Linked DNA regions of Homo sapiens. Each later gene encodes a partner of the first gene's protein in a complex. Each region holds a gene or a part of one and is shown on either strand. Other genes may lie near its edges.

What was found.
Region 2: the proteins of YWHAZ (region 1) and CDC25C are in contact, whole or in part, in a crystal structure (PDB 5M36), measured with the Homo sapiens proteins. Residues at the interface, in NP_001129171.1 of Homo sapiens: Lys11, Glu14, Gln15, Glu39, Val46, Lys49, Asn50, Arg56, Arg60, Val61, Ser64, Lys120, Arg127, Tyr128, Glu131, Gly169, Leu172, Asn173, Val176, Glu180, Asp213, Leu216, Ile217, Leu220, Asn224, Trp228; in NP_001274511.1 of Homo sapiens: Gly210, Tyr212, Arg213, Ser214, Pro215, Ser216, Met217, Pro218, Glu219, Asn220, Leu221, Asn222, Arg223, Arg225.
Region 3: the proteins of YWHAZ (region 1) and PI4KB are in contact, whole or in part, in a crystal structure (PDB 5NAS), measured with the Homo sapiens proteins. Residues at the interface, in NP_001129171.1 of Homo sapiens: Asn42, Ser45, Val46, Lys49, Arg56, Phe117, Lys120, Arg127, Tyr128, Gly169, Leu172, Asn173, Val176, Tyr179, Glu180, Leu216, Ile217, Leu220, Asn224, Leu227, Trp228; in NP_001317650.1 of Homo sapiens: Lys290, Arg291, Thr292, Ala293, Ser294, Asn295, Pro296, Lys297.

What each region holds. Positions count from the first base shown.
Region 1 is NC_000008.11:100,921,000-100,928,021, reverse strand, and holds part of YWHAZ (14-3-3 protein zeta/delta), read left to right. Parts: intron 1-2,982; coding exon 2,983-3,106; intron 3,107-3,723; coding exon 3,724-3,887; intron 3,888-3,971; coding exon 3,972-4,067; intron 4,068-7,022.
Region 2 is NC_000005.10:138,328,793-138,335,776, reverse strand, and holds the start of CDC25C (M-phase inducer phosphatase 3), read left to right. Parts: upstream 1-3,972; 5' UTR 3,973-4,157; coding exon of another isoform or gene 4,158-4,182; intron 4,183-4,558; coding exon of another isoform or gene 4,559-4,596; coding exon 4,597-4,790; intron 4,791-6,129; coding exon 6,130-6,224; intron 6,225-6,984. UniProt on the Homo sapiens protein: Functions as a dosage-dependent inducer in mitotic control. Tyrosine protein phosphatase required for progression of the cell cycle. When phosphorylated, highly effective in activating G2 cells into prophase.
Region 3 is NC_000001.11:151,303,405-151,310,426, reverse strand, and holds part of PI4KB (phosphatidylinositol 4-kinase beta), read left to right. Parts: intron 1-171; coding exon 172-216; intron 217-2,237; exon of another isoform or gene 2,238-2,260; intron 2,261-2,625; coding exon 2,626-2,853; intron 2,854-4,063; coding exon 4,064-4,291; intron 4,292-6,776; coding exon 6,777-6,886; intron 6,887-7,022. UniProt on the Homo sapiens protein: Phosphorylates phosphatidylinositol (PI) in the first committed step in the production of the second messenger inositol-1,4,5,-trisphosphate (PIP). May regulate Golgi disintegration/reorganization during mitosis, possibly via its phosphorylation.

The DNA of each region.
Region 1 (7,022 bases):
AGGCGTGAGCCACCATGCCCAGCCACCTTTCTCAACTCTTATGGTCAGCATCTCACCAGAAACACTTGCCACTTGTTTGGTTCTTTTGGTCTATCATTAGGCCAGTAAGCAGCCTGACTGCTGTTTACCCAGCCCTCCTGTTACTTGTGGGTTCTAACAAATAGCTTTAAAGTTGTTTTATGGTTAATTCAGTGTTCAGCTTTGGGGAAAGAAGTGCTTAACTGCCATTTTAATTCCCAGGGAACTGCTTAGTTCAGCATATTACCCAGGTAGAAAGTTACTACCTACAAAAGATAGATTACTACTTTTAGTAGCATTTATCAACACCTTTCCTAAAAAAATTTAAGTTTTTAGTACAGCTTTAAAATTTTACATCTTAAGTGACTGGTTCACTCTTAAGTAACTGCATGTGTTTATGGCCTTCATCTCTGCATACATAGAGGGGGTTAAAGTTACCGAAAAGTGAAAGACGTGATTAGGCAGTGTTACTCTTTTTGAGACAGCCTCACTGTCACCCTGTCCTAGAGTACAGTGGTATAATTCAATTACAGATCACTGCAGCCTCAAACTCCTGGACTCAGATGATCCTCCTGTCTCAGCCTTCCAAGTAGCTGGGACTATAGGGGTGTGCCACCACACCTGGTTAACTTTTAAATTTTTTTGTAGAGGCAGGATCTCATGTTCACCGGGGTGGTCTCAAACTCCTGGACTCAAGAAGTGATCCTCCCACCTCAGCCTCCCAAAGTGTTGGGATTACAGGAGTGAGCCACCGTGCCCTGCAATTCTTGTAAAGTGTATTGTAATGGAAGGAATGATAGCCTTGTCTCTACAGCTAGATTATGAATTACCAGAATATTGTGCTTCCAGCTTCTAGCATGGTGTCTGGTGTTATTGTGATAATAGAAATAAAATTTTAAGTGCTTACTCCTAAGTGCTTACCTGTATTTTTTCTCAATAATCTTAGAGGTCTCTGCCTTACAGGTGAGATAACTGAATCATTGAGATTAAGTAGTTCACACGGTGTATAGTGCTGTAATTCAAAACCAGACTCACCCCAAAGCCACTTATGTTTATACCATCTCCCATAGTTGAATGAATAATACAATTTGTGTAACAATGAAACTTTTGAAAATCCTGGTCATTTGTTTCTTAAAACCATTGTTTTTAAGTGGAAAGACTCACTTGACTATTTTAAATGCAAGTGTCTTCCACTGTTTGAGGCAGATCTCCACAGAGCAACCATAGGTGGTAAAAAGCATTGTATTCAAAGGACAAAACACTTTTGCAGCTAAGAGAACTTTGAATATGAAAGTATGAATGTGGTGTAAGACAGAGGTTGCTATCCTAACCAAAACGTTCTTCTGATTTCCGGCCAGTAATTTTATTTTATTTTTATTTATTTTGAGATGGAGTCTTGCTCTGTCATCCAGGCTGCAGTGCAGTGGTGCAACCTCGGCTCACTGCAGCCTCTATCTCTCGGGCTCAAGCAGTTCTCCTGCCTCAGCTGGGATTACAGGCGCCCGTCACCACGCCTGGCTAATTTTTGTATTTTTAGTAGAGACAGGGTTTCACCATGTTGACGAGGCTCACCTCAAGTGATCCTGCCACCCTAGCCTCCCAGAGTGCTGGGATTACTGGCATGAGCCACTGTGCCCGGCCTCAGGCCAGTATTTTTAAATATCGGTTAATAATTGCAGGAAACATCATTTCAGGTTGACTTTTCTCACCTTTAACCTCTTTATATAGCACAGTGCAATCTGGCCCTACTGCCACTTCATCTGGGTTATCTGTAGCTTGAGTTGTAAAAAAAAAAAAAAAAAAAATTGGGGGAAGAAGTTGGGTTAAAACTGTTCACCTACCCAGCATTGGAACATAATGGGTAAACAAAAAGTTGGAGTTACCATTTAAAAGCATTTTTCAAATTTATATTTTATATATAAGTAGGTGCTATATAAACTAATACTTTTTTTTTGTAAGAATGGATTTGGAATTTAGCTCAGCTGAAAATTGACTTCACCTTGATTCTCAGAGTGTACTTGAACTTTAAAGGAAGTGGGGTAGTGAGAATGGGTGGTTGGGGTTTTTTTGCTTTAATGTTTACCTAATTCTACTACTAGAATTATTTTTCTCCCCCTTAACTGGAAAGAAAAAAATTACACATTTATTGAGACTTCTTCCCATCCCCAACACAATGATCTAATCTTTTTGCTTTAAAATCAGTTAAAGAGTGTAATTTTTAAAATCCTAATCAAATGACTCAGATTGTAATAGTAGTTTTAGACAGAATTTTATAGGATGATGTTTTAATTTTATCTGTTGTCTGGGATGATCTGTAATCGTGTATCTTACTAGCCGAAAATGACTTCAATGAGATTAAAGGTCTGCTCTTTAAAATCTGTAAGTCTCCTACCACTGTCTTTAGGAAAAATAAAACTTTTGAACGGTTTTTTTATCTGTTGTGAGGTTTGCTTGAATTGTGTTGTTATAAATGAAGTTTATTTTGTTCCTCCTTCTCTGGCATGGACTCCTTAAGTGTCTTACATTATTGGTTTCTGCTTTAGTCATTTCTCCAGAGTCCCAAAAGGTTCATCCCGTATGTTCTTTCTATTTTCATGTCATGACCACATGAAACTTCAGATGGAAAGCTTGCCAGCTCATTAGAAAATGTTCCTAAATGTGAACGGTCATGCCCCACATTCATGAAGTCAGCATGTAAATAGATAACATTGTCAGGGACCAATGTTCAATTTTATTGTCCTCAAATAATAAACTGAACACTAACTTCAAACTTAAAATATTGCTGCCCAAAGCATTCTGCTTTAAACCACAAATTCATGTGCCAGCTGCATTCACAATTGTATTGACAGTGACTGGGTGTTTAAGTTTTATAACTTAGGCTATAGTTTGTTCTTTAAGAAATGCAAGTTCTTTCAGTTTTGTAAATGTTTTATTCTCACTATGTCTGTTTCTTTTCTTCTTAAGTCTCTTTTGGAAAAGTTCTTGATCCCCAATGCTTCACAAGCAGAGAGCAAAGTCTTCTATTTGAAAATGAAAGGAGATTACTACCGTTACTTGGCTGAGGTTGCCGCTGGTGATGACAAGAAAGGTATGCTGTTTTTAAACCTGTTGGTTGAACTTGTATAAGATAACATAGTGAGGAAGAGTCTCTGAAGCGTACATAATGTCTTGTTTTGAATTGCTTAGAGTGCCGAATAAGGAGTAGCAGTGCTCTTTGTGTTCTGAGAATACACATCTACTGCCTCATACTGCTATTCTAAAATAAATGCTTTCTGAAAAGCCAATATTGTGTACAGGGATGTTTTTTCAAGATTTTAAGAAAAGTGACCAGCCTGAGCAACATCTCTCTCTACAAAAAATATTTTGAAAATTAGCTGGGCATGGTGGTGCAAGCCTTTGGTCCCAGCTAATCTGGAGGCTGAGGTGGGAGGATTGCTTGGGTCTGGGATGTCAAAACTCGTCAATTTTTTAAAAACATAACAATAATGAGATTATAAAGTTGTTTTATCTTGACATTGATCAATGGCTAGTGTGTACCAGGAGAAAGCTCCCTTTAAAAAAAAAAAAGGACCTTGTTCAATTAACAAATATTAAGCTGTTACAGGTTAGTATTTCAAAGGATATGTGAGATATTAAAGGTTTGGTTTGAGGGGTGAAGATATAATGCACACTTTATCTCAGTACGTTTTGGTGTGTCTTATCCAGGGATTGTCGATCAGTCACAACAAGCATACCAAGAAGCTTTTGAAATCAGCAAAAAGGAAATGCAACCAACACATCCTATCAGACTGGGTCTGGCCCTTAACTTCTCTGTGTTCTATTATGAGATTCTGAACTCCCCAGAGAAAGCCTGCTCTCTTGCAAAGACAGTATGTATTTTACCTGTTACGTAGAAATTTAGCAGTCTTTATTATTTGAGCACTGAAATGTAATGTACTATTTTTAAATCGTAGGCTTTTGATGAAGCCATTGCTGAACTTGATACATTAAGTGAAGAGTCATACAAAGACAGCACGCTAATAATGCAATTACTGAGAGACAACTTGACAGTAAGTACATAACAGCATCATTAGTGATGAATGTGGTTGAAGAGGTTATGTTTTACTCTAGGGAATTTTTTTTTTTATTAAATACATCTTTTAAAATTTTTTCTCAACACATTTCATAGGCTCTCATAAATATATCTCAGCTACTATTAAAGTCCTATGAAGGAAAATTACAGAAACTGAAATATTAGACTGAGAACTAAAAAATACACACATTGATGAGTTACCTGTCTTGTTAAAATTTGTTAGTATCAAAAGTGTGCTGAGACTCTACATGTTTTAGTTCCTTTAAGAATGATTTTCTTGCCCATCAAGTTGCCTCCATATTGGTAAAGATAATGGTAGGGAATTAATAACTTGAGTTACAAAATCTCAGGTATCTACAGAATCCAAGTGGAAGTCTATTTTGCCTAGCTTCTTATTTTAAATGACTTAATATGAAAGGTCGTGATTGTCCTTGGGATACTGCAGATGTATAAAAAGAAACAGTGTCACTATCACACCAGGAACATCAACATAATTCCCTAATAATGTTTGAATATCTAAATAATACTTGAATTCCAATTATCTCTCTTTTTTTAAGTTATTTGAATTGGGATTCAAATTCAGTCCACAATGCAGTTGATTTGTATGTCTCGTTTGTTTCTTAGGTCTTCTCATTCTTCTCCTTCAGATAAATACTAGATTTGAAATTTTGAGGCTTAGGTGAAAAAATTATCAAGCATTTGCTGTGTGTCAGGTAAAGAGGTAGGAATTGCAGATCATAATCTAGGTATTACTGTTTTTTTGTTAGACTTCTAGGGCCATTTCTCTTGGGGACTATGTAATCTCATTTTATACATTTCTCTTCCAACTTTATTCTAGTCCACTGCCATTTTCTATAAACCAGTTCTATATGCTAGTGCTGAAAATCTTGAAGAGTTTTTTGAATAGTATTGTATACTTGTTTATTAAACCTAAAATTACTTTATTAGCACAATTTGGAGCTATCTATAAACTTTTCTGATACTTGAGTCAAGATAACAAGCCACAGTAAAGAATGAAAGAATCTTATATATCAAACATAAGAAGCACTTTGTTAACTAACTTTAGTATTAAGGATTTTTCTTTTCTAGTTTGAAGTGATGACATTTTTAAAGTGATGACCTGAGACCTAGATACTGTGTTTTGTTCACATCACTTTTTGAGAGGCCCTGATCTACTGTCTGCTTCCAACTGAATTTTGCTATCAGTATAGCATGAAGAGCGCATATTGCAATAAGAAAACCAGGGTTGGCCGGGCGTGGTGGCTCACGCCTGTAATCCCAGCACTTTGGGAGGCCGAGGCGGGCGGATCACCAGGTCAGGAGTTCAGGAACAGCTTGGCCAAGATGGTGAAACCCCATCTCTACTAAAAATACAAAAATTAGCTGGGCATAGTGGTGGGCACCTGTAATCCCAGCTACTCGGGAGGCTGAGGAAGAGAATTGCTTGAACCCGGGAGGCAGAGGTTGCAGTGAGCTGAGATCACACCGCTACACTCCAGCCTGGGCAAAAGAGCGAGACTCTGTCTCAAAAAAAAAAAAAAAGAAAAGAAAAAACCAGGGTTTTGATTCTAATTCTGTCACTACTTGTATGTCTTCTCTGAGCCTTATTAGTGTCAGCTGTCACCATTATAGGTTGATTGGAACATTTATCTGTCAAGAAAAGAAATTATCCCAAAACTTAATATTTCATTCTGAATTTGGTTGACCAAGACTGTCAACACATTACTCTAGAAAAAGAAATATTTTGTATCAAATTTGCATGTTTATACAGAAAATTCAAGAATCCTTGAAAGTTAGAACAGGAAAGAGACATTAGAAACAATTTCATCTTGCAATTACAAAACCCCTTGTTTGACAGGAGGAGCACACAGTTTCCAAGAGGTCATTTGGCTATCTGTATGACCTTGGAAGTAGTCTCCTTTCCAGGCCAGAGATATATTTGCTTAGTAGATAAATGAAGCTAATGGATGATTTGGGGAATATAAAAATAATAATTAGTGTATTTTCCCCTTCCCCTCCGTTTTCATGTGTAAGTCATATATAAAATTTAAGATTGTCTTGAATCCTTTTGTAATTACCTCTGAAAATCACTAGAGAGTGGTTAAGACTTCAACATTTTTAACATTGGAGCAGGTGGAATAGAGTTCATAACCCTGCCACCTATGGGACAACTTTCATTTTTACCTGTTAAAAGATTTGGTTCTGGTTTTTGTCCAGCATTTATTTTGAATCATATGATAGGGTAGTGCAAAAGTAATTGAGGGTTTTGCCATTTAAAGTAATGGCAAGAGCTGCGATTACTTTTGCACCAACCTGATAAATAAAGGTTTGTTTTTCTAAGCTTAAAGTGTTAGAAAAGCTAGATTTGTAGTTTAGCTCAGAGTTGAGGCTGGTTCTTGAATTTCATGGAGTATAGGATTCTGTTTGGAGTGTGAGTCACTTTAAGATCTACCAGTGGAGAGTAGTCAACCCTAGCTCCTTCAGCATGGGCCAAATTAGATGCTTCTGGTATAGTTGCACTCACCTTGGACGTCCATCTTTCATATTGGGGCTCTTTAGGTTCTGACACCTATTGATGCTTAGTTTTTAAAAAATAATTTAGGGCCTGGGCACAGTGGCTCACACCTGTAATCTCACCACTTTGGGAGGCCGAGGTGGGTGGATCACGAGATCAGATCAAGACCATCTTGGCCAACATAGTGAAACCCCGTCTCTCCTAAAAATACAAAAATTAGATGGGTGTGGTGGCACATGCCTGTAGTCCCAGCTACTCAGGAGGCTGAGGCAGGAGAATCGCTTGAACCTGGGAGGCGGAGGGTTCATTGAGCCAAGATCACGCCACTGCACTCCAGCCTGGTGACAGAGCGAGACTCCATCTCAAAAAAAAAGTATTATTTCTTGTAATTTCTCTTCACCTTCTGTGGATAACCAA
Region 2 (6,984 bases), on another chromosome or scaffold:
AAAAAAAACCCTGCAAGTCAAGTTTCAGGCCTCATTTCAAAGGAAGGTTACATCCCCTTTCGTCATCTATAAAATGGCCTCCCAGTGCAGCCCAACACTCCTACCCATAATTAAATCTCCTTATTCCACTTTTAGTTCCCAAGGATTTTTTACTCATGTCCTGCTCTTTCCCTGCTGCCCCCTTTTTAGTCTTTTGTTCTTGAGCCACTGCTTTGAACTGCATCTTAATTATGCCCTCATGGGCCAAACCCCATCTGTGACCCTGCTCCAGTGGGTTTCAGCAAAGGATACTCTCCATCCATATTCTGAGGGCTCCAGGGCCTGGAGCCAGTCATCCAGGAGGTCATCCAAAGGAGTGGAATCCATTGGTTCTAAGACTCTTCATTCCCTGCCTAGGAAGGAACAGCCGAGTTGGAGGAACATGCACTCGATTCAGACCTTCCCTTTTCACCCAGTGAAAGCTAAACCTCTGCAAAGTGGGGAGAAGTAGGGCTAAGCCTACCAGTCATAAAAAGAACCAGGAATAGAAAACACACCCCTCAGCCCCTCTGCCCTGCAGAGGCTGGCTGGGAGGATCCCAGGAATGCAGGGCTCTTCTCCACTGCCTGATCTGGGCATCCCAGGAGTGATGGCTGTACCTCCTGTTCTTGTTTGGTGTTTCAGGGTGAAGCCCGGGCTGTCACTGTGCCCTGGCAACAACATGTATGAGTCAGACTGAGGTCAAGGTGAAGGAACACAGCTCACTGCTTATCACAGTGAATCAGGAGCCTAGATAGGGATTCCCCAAGGATGACATAGGATCAATGCCCTCAATCCAACAGAAAAAGTAAATCTTCAAATCAGATTAAACACCAAACTTCCCACCTCCCTAATATTCTTTCTTCTGGGAAGGATAACTTAGATATATTCCAACACCCTCATAAATCAAGATATAAAAGACAATATTTGACTTCCCTTTAAAATAATTCTACCATTTCACAGTTTGTATGTATGCATGTAAACTTACATGTAATTAGCTAAGTATGTTGCAATTAGCTAAGCCAGCTGGAATCATGAGGAGATAGTGAAAATGTTTGCTAGGAAAACAACCTCATTAACAAACGTAGAGCTTTTAAGAGTTTTGTTGGCTGGGCATGGTGGCTCACACCTGTAATCCCAGCACTTTGGGAGGCCGAGGTGGGTGGATTACCTCAGGTCAGGAGTTTGAGACCAGCCTGGCCAACACAGCGAAACCCTGTCTCAACTAAAAATACAAAAATTAGCCAGGTGTGGTGGCGCATGCCTGTAATCCCAGCTACTCAGGAGGCTGAGGCAAGAGAATCACTTGAACAGAGGTTGCAGTGAGCTGAGATTGCGCCATTGCACTCCAGCCTAGGCAACAAGAAAGAAACTGTCTCAAAAAAAAAAAGTTTTTTTGTTGTTGTTTTTAGGAGACAGTCTCACTATGTTGCCCAGGCTGGCCTCAAACTCCTGGGCTCAAGTGATCCTCCCAAGTAGCTGGGACTACAGGCGCACCACTGCATCTGTAAAAAGTCTTAAGGGCGGCCGGGCGCAGTGGCTCATGCCTGTAATCCCAGCACTTTGGGAGGCCGAGGTGGGTGGATCATTTGAGGTCAGGAGTTCCAGAACAGCCTGGACAATATGGTGAAACCCCACCTCTATTAAAAATACAAAAATCAGCCAGGCGTGGTGGCGGGCACCTGTAGTCCCAGCTACTCGGGAGGCTGAGGCAGGAGAATAACTTGAACCCAGGAGGCAGAGGTTGCAGTGGGCCAAGATTGCGCCACTGTACTCTAGCCCGGGAGAGAGCGAGACTCCATCTTAAAAAAAAAAAAAATACTCTTAAGAGCTAGGTGTATAAGTTCCATTTGAGAAATCTCAGAAACTTATTTTTGGGGCTAGATTTTTGGAGAATTTGTTTTAGGAATGCTGCAACTTTGTCAGAGTGCTCAGATTTTAGTATATTTCCATCACCTGACATTGAACTAAAGCCACTTGGCTGACACCTTTGTTGTGACCACCCACAACTGCACTTACTTGAGGACCTGGTGCAGAAAGCACTGGTAGCCAGGTGTGCACTTGCCATAATCTATCTGCTTTTGCCACCAATAGAGAATAACTTTGTCTCTACTTCCCACCTGCAGGGAAGTATACAATTTCCCACAAAGTGTGATTATACTGTAGTCGTCAAAGCAGATAACAACTCATCCCACACTCCCTTAATCCCCAGCCTGATTTTCAAACTCACCTGGCATAGCAAGGTTCTGTGCTAACTCCTACACTCACTGTCTGTATCCTAGAGGACAAAGAATCTTCACACATCTCCTTTCTGGGGAAGCAGGTTCTGCAGATGAAAAGGGTATTAGGATAAAAACCAGCTGGCTACACTGTGCCTCTCAGCCACTACCACCACCAAGATCCTGACAACAGACACAAGTTGCATTTTGACTTTTGTTTCTCAAAGCATGATCTGCAAGCCGTCTGCATGGGTAGCACCTGGGGGCCTTGATAATGACCCCACTTTAGACCTATCGAATTATCGTTTTTGGAGCCTACATCTTAAAGAGCTTCCAAGGTTATTTTGAACATTTTTATTATGGAAATTTTCAAATATACATTGAAGTAAGAAGTATGGGGTAATACCTTACCACGCAAAGTATGGTCGTAGGACCAGCTACCTCACCATCAGCTGGGGGCTTGTTAGAAGGGCAGAATCTTGGGCCGCAACCGCAACCCAGACATCCCGAATCAGAATCTGCATTTAGCAGGTCCTCAGGTGGTTAGTGTGCAAATTAAACCTTGAGAAGCACAGATATGATGGACCCTCCTGCCCCCATCACTCAACAGTCAGGGTCAATCTTGTATCATCAATACCTTCCCCCAGCACAGGATTATTTAAAAGCAAATCCCTAACATTAGGAATGTCTTTTTGTTTGTTTCACTCTAATGCCCAGGCTGGAGTGCAGTGGCGCAACCTCTGTCTCCCGAGTTCAAGCAGTTCTCATGCCTCAGCCTCCCAAGTAGCTGGGATTACAGGTGTGTGCCACCACAACCGGCTAAATTTTGTATTTTTAGTAGAGACGGGGTTTCATCATGTTGGCCAGGCTGGTTTTGAACCCCTGACCTCATGTAATCTGCCCGCCTCGGCCTCCCAAAGTGCTGGGATTACAGGTGTGGGCCAACGCGTCCGGCCAATAATTTATAAATATCACCTCGTCAATGTTCAAATTTTCATTAATAACCAATCTTTGAGGTCCTCTGGATTGCGATAAGGATTATACCAAGATGATTTAATTCCTCCACTTTCCCTGCAACGGAATTTCTTTTTACCCACGTGAGCTAGAGTCTCTGAGATGCTGCACACTAAAAGAAACACCAAACAAAGCTCTTGGAAGGGGCTAATGCCTCTCAGCATAAACACACACACCCGTCTCGCCCCAACACTTGCCACGCCGGCAGCAAACGCTCCATCTCCCGTGGAAGGCCAGCAAAACTTAGAAGAAAACGTCCGCGAAAACGGCACGAGAAAGAAGCGAAGAAAATGAAACGCTTACAACACCCTCCACCCAAAATAATCTCTCCTAGTATTACCCTAGTGAATGGACATCACTAGTAAGGCGCGGTTTAAATCTCCCGGGGTTCGTGGGGCTGAGGGAACGAGGAAAACAGAAAGGGTGTGGAGATTGGTGAGAGGGAGAGCCAATGATGCGCCAGGCTCCCCGTGAGGCGGAGCTTACCCCGCAGCCTGCCTAACGCTGGTGGGCCAAACACTATCCTGCTCTGGCTATGGGGCGGGGCAAGTCTTACCATTTCCAGAGCAAGCACACGCCCCCAGGTGATCTGCGAGCCCAACGATAGGCCATGAGGCCCTGGGCGCGCGCGCGGAGATTGGCTGACGCAGCTTAGAGGCGAGCGGGGATAGGTTACTGGGCTGGCGGAAGGTTTGAATGGTCAACGCCTGCGGCTGTTGATATTCTTGCTCAGAGGCCGTAACTTTGGCCTTCTGCTCAGGGAAGACTCTGAGTCCGACGTTGGCCTACCCAGTCGGAAGGCAGAGCTGCAATCTAGTTAACTACCTCCTTTCCCCTAGATTTCCTTTCATTCTGCTCAAGTCTTCGCCTGTGTCCGATCCCTATCTACTTTCTCTCCTCTTGTAGGCAAGCCTCAGACTCCAGGCTTGAGGTAAGTCCGCAGCCGTCTCCGCCACGGAATCACGGAGACCCCATTGTCCCCCTTAGGGTCCAGTCGGGCCCCCACAGACAGAGGTTGGGAGGGCCGAATGGGGACTATCGCGAGTTACGAGACCCGGGTTCTTTCTAGTCAGGAGTCTCGAGCTGTGTGGCGTGGAACAAGTCAAAATCCTCTCTTCATTCCATCTTTAAGGTCCTAAGGTTGCCTCTCGTCGGTGAATTCAGGTTCTAACCTTAAGCCAGGCTGTGAATCACCCTTCGGGGTTGCCCCTCTTCCAGTGTTGATTCGCCTGGCTGGAAAGGGTGGAGGAGTTTAGGAAAGCTGAGGGAACTGTGATGTACCGATTTAGATGACGTTTTCCTCCTAGCTAGGTTTTGTTTTTCTCCTGGTGAGAATTCGAAGACCATGTCTACGGAACTCTTCTCATCCACAAGAGAGGAAGGAAGCTCTGGCTCAGGACCCAGTTTTAGGTCTAATCAAAGGAAAATGTTAAACCTGCTCCTGGAGAGAGACACTTCCTTTACCGTCTGTCCAGATGTCCCTAGAACTCCAGTGGGCAAATTTCTTGGTGATTCTGCAAACCTAAGCATTTTGTCTGGGTAAATATACTTTTATTTTTACACTGTATTGCCTTTGCTATTTCCAAACAGTTGGGTTTGTTTGTTGGTTTGTTTTCAATTATCCCGGCTCAAAGGTCAGGCTTTAAGTCTCAACTCTGCCCTTGACTGTGTAACCCTTTTGAGTCTCACCTTCTTTTCTGTGACAAGAAATAATCTCAGCCAGGCGAGGTGGCTCATGCCTGTAATCTCCGCACTTTGGGAGGCCAAGGAGGGCGGATCGCCTGAGTCTAGGAGTTCAAGACCAGCCTGGGCAACATGGCAAGACGCCGTCTCTACAAAAAATATTAAAAGTTAGCTGAGTGTGGTGGTGTGCACCTATAGTCCCAGCAACTCGGGAGGCTGAGGTGGGAGGATTGCTTGAGCCCGGGAGGTGGAGGCTGCAGTTAGCCAAGATCGCCTCACTGCACTTCAGCCTGGGAAACAGAGTGAGACTCTATCTCAAAAAGAAAAGAAAAGACAAAGAAATAATAATCGCTTCCTATCTTACTAGGATCTTGTGAGAATCAAATGATGTGATAACTGGGAAAAGTCTTTGAAAACCGCTGCATTACGAGTCGGTCACTTTATTAGTATTAATATTAGTGTTATTGCAGTTGTACTTTGAATTCTGATCATACCATGTCTCAACTAGCAAAGAGAAGTAGTACCTGAGAAAAACTAGGGACCCCAGGGAGAAATCAAGCCTGTGTTCATAGTGCTCAGGACCGGGAATGTGGAGTCAAGATCCCCCTCGGCCAATAAACTCTGGGCCTCATTTAAAAAAAAAAAAATTATCTGTTTCAGTATGTTGGTAAGGAGAAAATAAAGTACAGATTATGGTAGTGGGAGATTTTTCTCAGCCCAGTCTGATATATTTCCCAAAAGCAATTAGATTTATTTGGACACTGTTCAGATGATCTGATAGTCATTAAGGGGTGTTTCAAATGAACAGGCTTGGCCAGGCGTTGTGGCTCACACCTGTAATCCCAGCACTTTGGAAGGCCGAGGTGGGTGGATCACCTGAGGTTAGGAGTTTAAGACCAGCCTGGCTGACATGGTGAAGCCCCATCTCTACTACAAATACAAAAATTAGCTGGGCGTGGTGGCAGGCGCCTGTGATCCCAGCTATTTGGGAGGCTGAGGCAGGAGAATCGCTTGAACCCGGGAGGCGGAGGTTGCAGTGAGCCAAGATCGTGCCACTGCACTTGAGCTGGGGGGACAGAGCAAGACTCCACTGCAAAAAAAAAAAAAAAAAAAAAAGAAGAGGATGACATGATCTTTGACTTTTAAGGATATAATAATCTAATGGGAATTTCGATGTACTATTATGTCTCAACAGAGGAACCCCAAAACGTTGCCTCGATCTTTCGAATCTTAGCAGTGGGGAGATAACTGCCACTCAGCTTACCACTTCTGCAGACCTTGATGAAACTGGTAGGGAGAAGGGAGATAAAGGCCTCAAAGGGAAGAATAACTTTTAAGGGAGAAAACAGGGAAGGAGGATAGAGACGGAAGGTGGTGAAAGTATAAAAAGAATCTGCCTAGAGAGATGGAATTTTGTGGGTAACTAGAGGATTTTTGAGAATGATTAAGCCAATGGGAAGAGAAAGATAATAACACTAATAGGAGCTACTTTGCATATGAAAATGTTAGACAAGTAGGAATATATTTTGTTGACTGATTAATGGTGGGAATGAAAGTATAGTCATTAGGATATGAGAAGTTTTGTGCCTCAGTCTAATCTCAGCAGAGGCAAAGAAACCAGCATAAAGAAATATGTTGTTGGCCAGGTGCAGTGGCTCATGCCTGTAATCCCAGCACTTTGGGAGGGCAAGGCGGGCGGGTCACGAGGTCAAGAGATCGAGACCATCCTGGCCAACATGGTGAAACCCCATCTCTACTAAAAATACAAAAGTTAGTTTGGCATGGTGGCACGTGCCTGTAGGCCCAGCTACTGGGGAGGCTGAGGCAGGAGAATCTCTTGAACCCGGGAGGTGGAGGTTGCAGTGAGCCAAGATAGCACCAATGCACTCCCGCCTGGCGACAGAGCGAGACTGCATCTCAAAAAAAAAGAAATATGTTGTCAACTAATTTTTATATGTTTTATATGAAATATTCCAAAAGGAATGTTTCATAAGTTAACCTTCCAGAATTCTAATTTCAGATTTTCTGAGTGATAACCTTTCTTTTCTAC
Region 3 (7,022 bases), on another chromosome or scaffold:
GCATCTGGGCAAGTAGCATTTCTGAGTTGACTTTCTTTTATTAAAGCAGAAAGGTAGAACTTCACTAGAGAAGCAGTTACGATCCAAGTTGGAGCTAAATTCTTTACCTTTGTCTCTCTCCCCTCCCTTCCCACCCCCTCCTTCTCCCTTTGCCCTCTGGCCCTTTCCCAGGAGCTCTCCTCCAGCACCGAGAGTATTGATAATTCATTCAGTTCCGTAAGTGGGGCCAGGCTGGGACGGGGTGGCAGGCTCCCCCAGTGGCCGCATTTCCTCTCCGTCCCCAGGTCTTCTGAGCCCCCAGGCCAAGGCTGGAGTTAAAATGCCCCTTTTCTTACTGGGAGATCAGCTCCTCCCTCCCAGACCTCCCAGATCTGCTGGAGTTCCCCTGACCTTTGCGGTGGAAATCCTGAGCCCAGGCTGAGATGAGCTCAGCTGATCCTTCTCTCAGAGACAGCTGGAGTACAGTGCTGCTCAGCCCCCAGCTCCTGAGTGTCTGGAGCAAACAGCTGGGAGAGAGGTAGAATTCACTCCTGGATTAGAGCCAAAAACTGCCTGGCAGAAACCCCCAGGATCCTGTTTCTCCCACCCAGAACCCTTTCCCCATGGCTTCTGCCGTCAGATTATCAAATATTTATTCATAATCTTCTAAATGCTAGGCCCTGTGCTGGTGAGCTGACTCCAAAAACAAATAGGACTTGGCCTGAAGGAAAGTTTTGCCTCTCCACAACTGGTTTTCTTTTTTAACTTCAACCACATTTTTTCCAGGTCTGAGTTCTTCCCTTTTCCCAGCTCACTGCCCAGGATGTTCCTTAATCCCCTCTCCTTTCTTGTTCCCTCTGGACTAACCCCTGACCCTTTGGTCCCACAGGGTCTTGGACCTTGTTGCTGGGCAAAGACGTGAGAGGAAATGCAGGACCTCTGGGAGTTTGGCTGATTTTTTTTATATTTTCTATTTGATTTGTCTATCAAATCAGTTTTCTCTGTTCTGTGCTAATCCCCTTTCAGTCATGATTCCTATCTCCTCTCATGTGGCAGAGCCTCTCTCTTGAGGCCTGGGGTCACATTTCTAACATGCTCACGTAACTTAGGGGCCCCTAACCCAAATGCTGATTTGAGAATGGGAAGGAATTCTGCCTTTTCTAATCTGAGATGATTATGAATTGGGTGGGGTAGAGGGTCCTTGGGACAGAGATCAGTTGCCATCTGAGTGGATTCAGATGAAGGAAGAAGTGAGTCTTCAAATTTCCTCTTATTTTCTTTCTCTATTAGACCCCCAGGATATTTCCAGGGACCTTAGAAACCCAATTCCATTGTTTTCCTTTTCTTTATCTCTTTTCAACAATGTCACTTAAAGCATTCCTGAAGGATTCAGACACCCTCTTTCAGTCCCTATGTGGCACTCTGAACCATCTCCCAAGAGGCAGAGGCTGGAATGAGCTTTTCCTTTGAATCCTGGCACTGTTGCACATGTAGAGGTAGGCCTGATACTCCCCAGTTTTCAAAAGAAGCTCTTTTAGAGTTCGAGGGAGCAAGGATAGAAATTCTCTCAATCCAGAAACTAAGCAAGACACACGGAAAGGGAGAGAAAGGCTTGGTGAGTCAAATGCTGTTTCTACAAAGGAGGGGAGATGGGATGGGGAGTTGGGTGGCTGTCTTGATAAAATGCCCCTTACGGTAGAAGGGCTTAGACTGGGAAGAGAGCCTTTCTTCGTGTCTAGCTGAGTCCCTCTTTTTCCCCACCTGCACCTTAATTCCAAGACCAACTTTGCTCTTTCTGAGGATGACTGAATTGCCCAGCACAAGGAGCCAAACTCACAGCAGGGAATTAATATGAGGAACCTAGTCACTGAGAGGTAGGGGAAGAGGACCCAAAGAGGAGTCACTAAAAGAGACAGGCCTTCAGGGCCATCATCAAGGGCTAAAAGGAGCTGTTGCTTTCTCCATCTACCTACCTCCTTCCATCTGCTTTTTCTTTCTCCTTGATTAATGCAAAGTCTGCTCATCGGCTCATCCTCTTTCCATCCCCTGCATGTGCATTGACGCCTGGTAAGAGATTGTGGGACGGACAGGGGGATACCATGGAAATCAACAGAAGTAATTTGAATGACGAGCATCTTCCCTCTTTGAAAGTGGAAATGATGTGGGGCTCCCTTCTCTAGCCTTGCGGGACTTGACGGAGCCCCTCGGCAGAGATCTAGCCCAAGGATCCAGATGGGGAGAAGGACAACCCTGTTCTTGAAAAGGGTGAAACAATTCAGGTGTAAGCAGCTCTTCTCTCTGTGGCCCTGGCTAACCTATCCAGATGTCCCCCTGCTCACTCTGAAGCCTTGGTACAGTCCTTAAGGAACCCAAGTCCAGGAGAAGAGGAGTGCATCCCAGTTACCTGGACTCATGGCCTCCCTTACCCTCAAGGGATAGCCTATAGGGAAGGAATGTGCTGGCTATTCTCAATTCAAGTTGTGAAGGGTGGGTGGAAGCTCCTACTAAGACTAAAAAGCAGCTGCTTTCCTGGAGTTCTCCAGATAGTGGGGTCCCCGGCCTGCATGGCCAGGAGTGACTGAGTGGGTGTGCCATTGTATTCTATGGTTTCTTCACCATCTTTTGTCTTACCCCAAACCCCTGTAGCCTGTTCGACTGGCTCCTGAGAGAGAATTCATCAAGTCCCTGATGGCGATCGGCAAGCGGCTGGCCACGCTCCCCACCAAAGAGCAGAAAACACAGAGGCTGATCTCAGAGCTCTCCCTGCTCAACCATAAGCTCCCTGCCCGAGTCTGGCTGCCCACTGCTGGCTTTGACCACCACGTGGTCCGTGTACCCCACACACAGGCTGTTGTCCTCAACTCCAAGGACAAGGTAGATGGGTTCTGGCCCAAACCCCTACCCTGGACGTGACTCTTCACCCATGGTTGTTCAGAGTTTGCGTGTATGACCAGTGAGGCCCTCACCAACATCCTAGACTCCCTTCATAGTTCATGATGCATATGTCAACCATGACTCTGTCTCAGTGCGATTGTGATTTTGAGAGCCCCCCTGTATCCCTTTTTGGGCTTTGTTTTTCTGGACCAAAGAAACCTAATCTTTTTAGCTTCCTTCTTGCTGTATCTTAGGAGAATTGCTCTTCACCCCACCTTATGGTCATTTTGGTAGCTTTTCTCCAGCCTTTCTATAACTCTTGGGCTTTCCAGATACAGCAACCATAAGGATAGAGAAATATTTTGTTTCTAAGACCTTTTCTGATCAGAATGAGCCGACAAAAGGAGAGAAGGATGCCCAATTCACACTGGAGAGAATTAGCTGAATTTGTGTGCTGACTGGAATGAGTATTCATGGTTCAGATTCTTCTTTTTTTTTTGAGATGGAGTCTCACTCTATTGCGGAGGCTGGAGTGCAGTGGCACAATCTTGGCTTACTGCAACCTCCGCAACCCAGGTTCAAGCGATTCTCCTGCCTTAGCCTCCTGAGTAGCTGGGATTACAGGCGCCTGCCACCACACCCGGCTAATTTTTGTAGTTTTAGTAGCGACGGGGTTTCGCCATCTTGGCCAGGCTGGTCTTGAACTCCTGACCTCATGATCCACCCGCCTCGGCCCCCCAAAGTGCTAGGATTACAGGCGTGAGCCACCGCGCCCGGCCCATATTCTTCTTTCAAAGGAAATACTGAAGTTTGGGACACTCCTTGGGACAGTGCCCAGCTTTGTCCCAGTCTTTTTGTCCACTGTAGCTCCCTGGGCCCTGTCTTCAGGACGAGCCCACAGAGGCATCTAGGCCTCCCTTACAGCCTGTAATTGATAGTCTAGAGTGGTTTGGCCCAAGCACATCATCTGTACATTTTGGAGCTCAGTTGAAATATTTTGAAGACTTAAGGATTCTGTCACACAAATTCTTTACATAGGTGATCATAGGACAAGTATCTGCCCTAAATATAGTGTTCATAGTTTCAGAGGACTATTGGATGAAGGCTGGAGCTAGGAGAAAGGACAGCAGGAAGAACCTTGCTAACAGAGTTGAGATTTGGGGGTTAGTGGTGGAAGTAAGTTGCAAATACTGTCTCACTCTTCCCCCAGGCTCCCTACCTGATTTATGTGGAAGTCCTTGAATGTGAAAACTTTGACACCACCAGTGTCCCTGCCCGGATCCCCGAGAACCGAATTCGGAGTACGAGGTCCGTAGAAAACTTGCCCGAATGTGGTATTACCCATGAGCAGCGAGCTGGCAGCTTCAGCACTGTGCCCAACTATGACAACGATGATGAGGCCTGGTCGGTGGATGACATAGGCGAGCTGCAAGTGGAGGTGAGAGGGCTTCAGGGAGGTAATGCTGGGTCACAGGAGCTTTCTCCAGGAGCTTTCACTATATTGGAAACAAGACAGCATATCCCAAGGCAGGGTAAGGCAAGTATCCTAATGAGTGGTGTAGGTAGTGAGGGGTAATATGGGGAAAGCTCTGAACAACTCTAGCCTGGAATAGATTCAGGTGGAGTTCATTTTCCAGGTGAAGGATTCAGATTTAAATGTAAAGAGGAGCTTCTAGGCCAAGGGGAGTGAGGGAAATTTAATGAAAATATTTATTGAACACCTACATAAAGTTGTCATAGAATAGCAGAGGATGAGAAGTCATACATTAATTCATTCAAGAAATTTTTATTGAGGGCCTTCTATGTGCCAGACCTGAGTGCTGTATGCTAGTGAACAAGACTTGGCCCCTGCCTACAAGGGATTTATGACCTAACTGGAAAGAGAACAAGGCCAGTAAGCAAGTAGTTGTAGTGTGGTGAGAGTCAAGTCATGGGGGAAAGGATAGGACATTATAAGAGCACCAGACTTGGGGCGGGCATCACAAGAGATTTCCTGGAGGAAGTAATCTCTCAGCTGAGGCTGGAAGCATGGGTAGGAATTAGCTGGACAAAGAGTGCTGGACAGAGGGAACACTGCATGCAAAGGCCAGAAGACAAGAGGGAGCTTGGGCCATTATAGGAATTGAAAGAAATTTTGCCTGGCTGTGATGTGCAGGTGTGAGGTAAGAAGTGGTGAAGAATAAGACTGGACACGTGGGCATGGACCAGACTATAGGAAGGACCCTGTAAGCTGGGGAAAGAAACTTGAACTTTATTCTGGGGCATGAAGAGCCAGAGCAGAATTTTGTGTAGAGCTATTAACACAGCTGGCCAGGCGCAGTGGCTCACACCTGTAATCCCAACACTTTGGGAGGCCGAGGTGGGTGGATCGCTTGAAGTCAGGATTTCGAGACCAGCCTGGCCAACAAGGTGAAACTCCATCTCCACTAAAACTAGAAAAATTATGCCGGGTGCGGTGGCGCACGCCTGTAATCCCAGCACTTTGGGAGGACAGGGCGAGCAGATCACCTGAGGTCAGGAGTTCGAGACCAGCCTGGCCAACATGGTGAAACCCCGTCTCCACTAAAAATACAAAAATTAGCCGGGCGTGGTGGCATGTGCCTGTAATCCCAGCTAATCGGGAGGCTGAGGCAGTAGAATTATTCGAACCCAGGAGGCGGAGGTTGCAGTGAACCAAGATCACGCCACTGCACTTCAGCCTGGGTGACAAGCAAAATTCCGTCTCAAAAGAAAAAAAAAAAAAAGCCAGGTGTGGTGGAACATGCCTGTAATCCCAGCTACTCGGGAGGCAAGTGATTCTTGAAGCACAAGAATCACTTGAACCTGGGAGGCGGAGGCTGCAGGGAGCTGAGATCACAGCACTGCACTCCAGCCTGGGTGACAGAGTGAGACTCTGTCTTAAAACAAAACAAAACAAAAACACAGCCAGGGCCAGGCGCGGTGGCTCACGCCTGCAATCCCAGCACTTCGGGAGGCTGAGGTGGGCAGATCACCTGAGGTCAGGAGTTCAAGAACAGCCTGACTAACATGGTGAAACCCCGTTCCTACTAAAAATACAAAAAATTAGCCAGGCATGGTGGCGCGCGCCTGTAATCCCAGCTACTCAGAAGGCTGAGGCAGGAGAATCGCTTGAACCTGGGAGGCGGAGGTCGCAGTGAGCCGAGATCACACCATTGCACTCCAGCGTGGGCAACAAGAGCGAAACTCCGTCTAAAAAAAAAAAAAAAAAACACACAGCCAGGTTTCACTTTGCCAAAAGGCAGAATCTCTGTCTTTGAGCTTATAGTCCAATTGCAGAAATTAGACATTTAAGAAAAAAAAATTTAGATATACAACAAAGCAGTGTGTACTAGGTGACAAATGGAGTTGAGAAGAAATGCTCTGGTATGAAGGACAGAAGAGACTTGACATGGGCCTTGGGGTCTGGTAGAATATTCTGTATTTAGAGAGAGATGAGAAGATAAGATTGAATGACTTAGATTGAAGAAACTGTCAGAAGCTAGTCTGCAAAGAGTCTGCTTTGGACCCTAGGGGAGAACGCATCCCTATCCTTGGGGGACTCTCAGTGAGGCTGAAATTTTGAGCTCCTGTAATGGTCATGGCAGTGGTTTGCAAACTTTAGTGCATTGGAAGTCTTCTGGAGAACTTGTTAAAAATTCAGACTTTCAGATCCCATTCCTAGTAATTATAATTCAGATTGATGGTGGGGCCTGGGAATCTGCATTCTGGGTAATTCTACTGCAGGTAGTTCACATGTTGAGAAATGCTGCTCTGGGCAGCCTGGGGTCCCAGTAACCAACATGGTGTGTAAGCAGAGTTTGAAAGAGAGGGATGAGCATGCTGCAGTGATAGCAAGCAAGCAGGAGGGGAAAGACGGGAGACCTATACTTTAGCACTTCTGACCAGCACTCCCCTTTCTCCAGCTCCCCGAAGTGCATACCAACAGCTGTGACAACATCTCCCAGTTCTCTGTGGACAGCATCACCAGCCAGGAGAGCAAGGAGCCTGTGTTCATTGCAGCAGGGGACATCCGGTATGGCCAGATCACATTGCCCCTCATTTTTCATCCCTCTTTCAGGAACTTCCCATCTCTTTGTTACCTTCCTCTCCATCTCAATCATCTGTTGTTGGCCTGTGTCTTTCCCTCTTTCATTCTGTCCTTGTTTGGG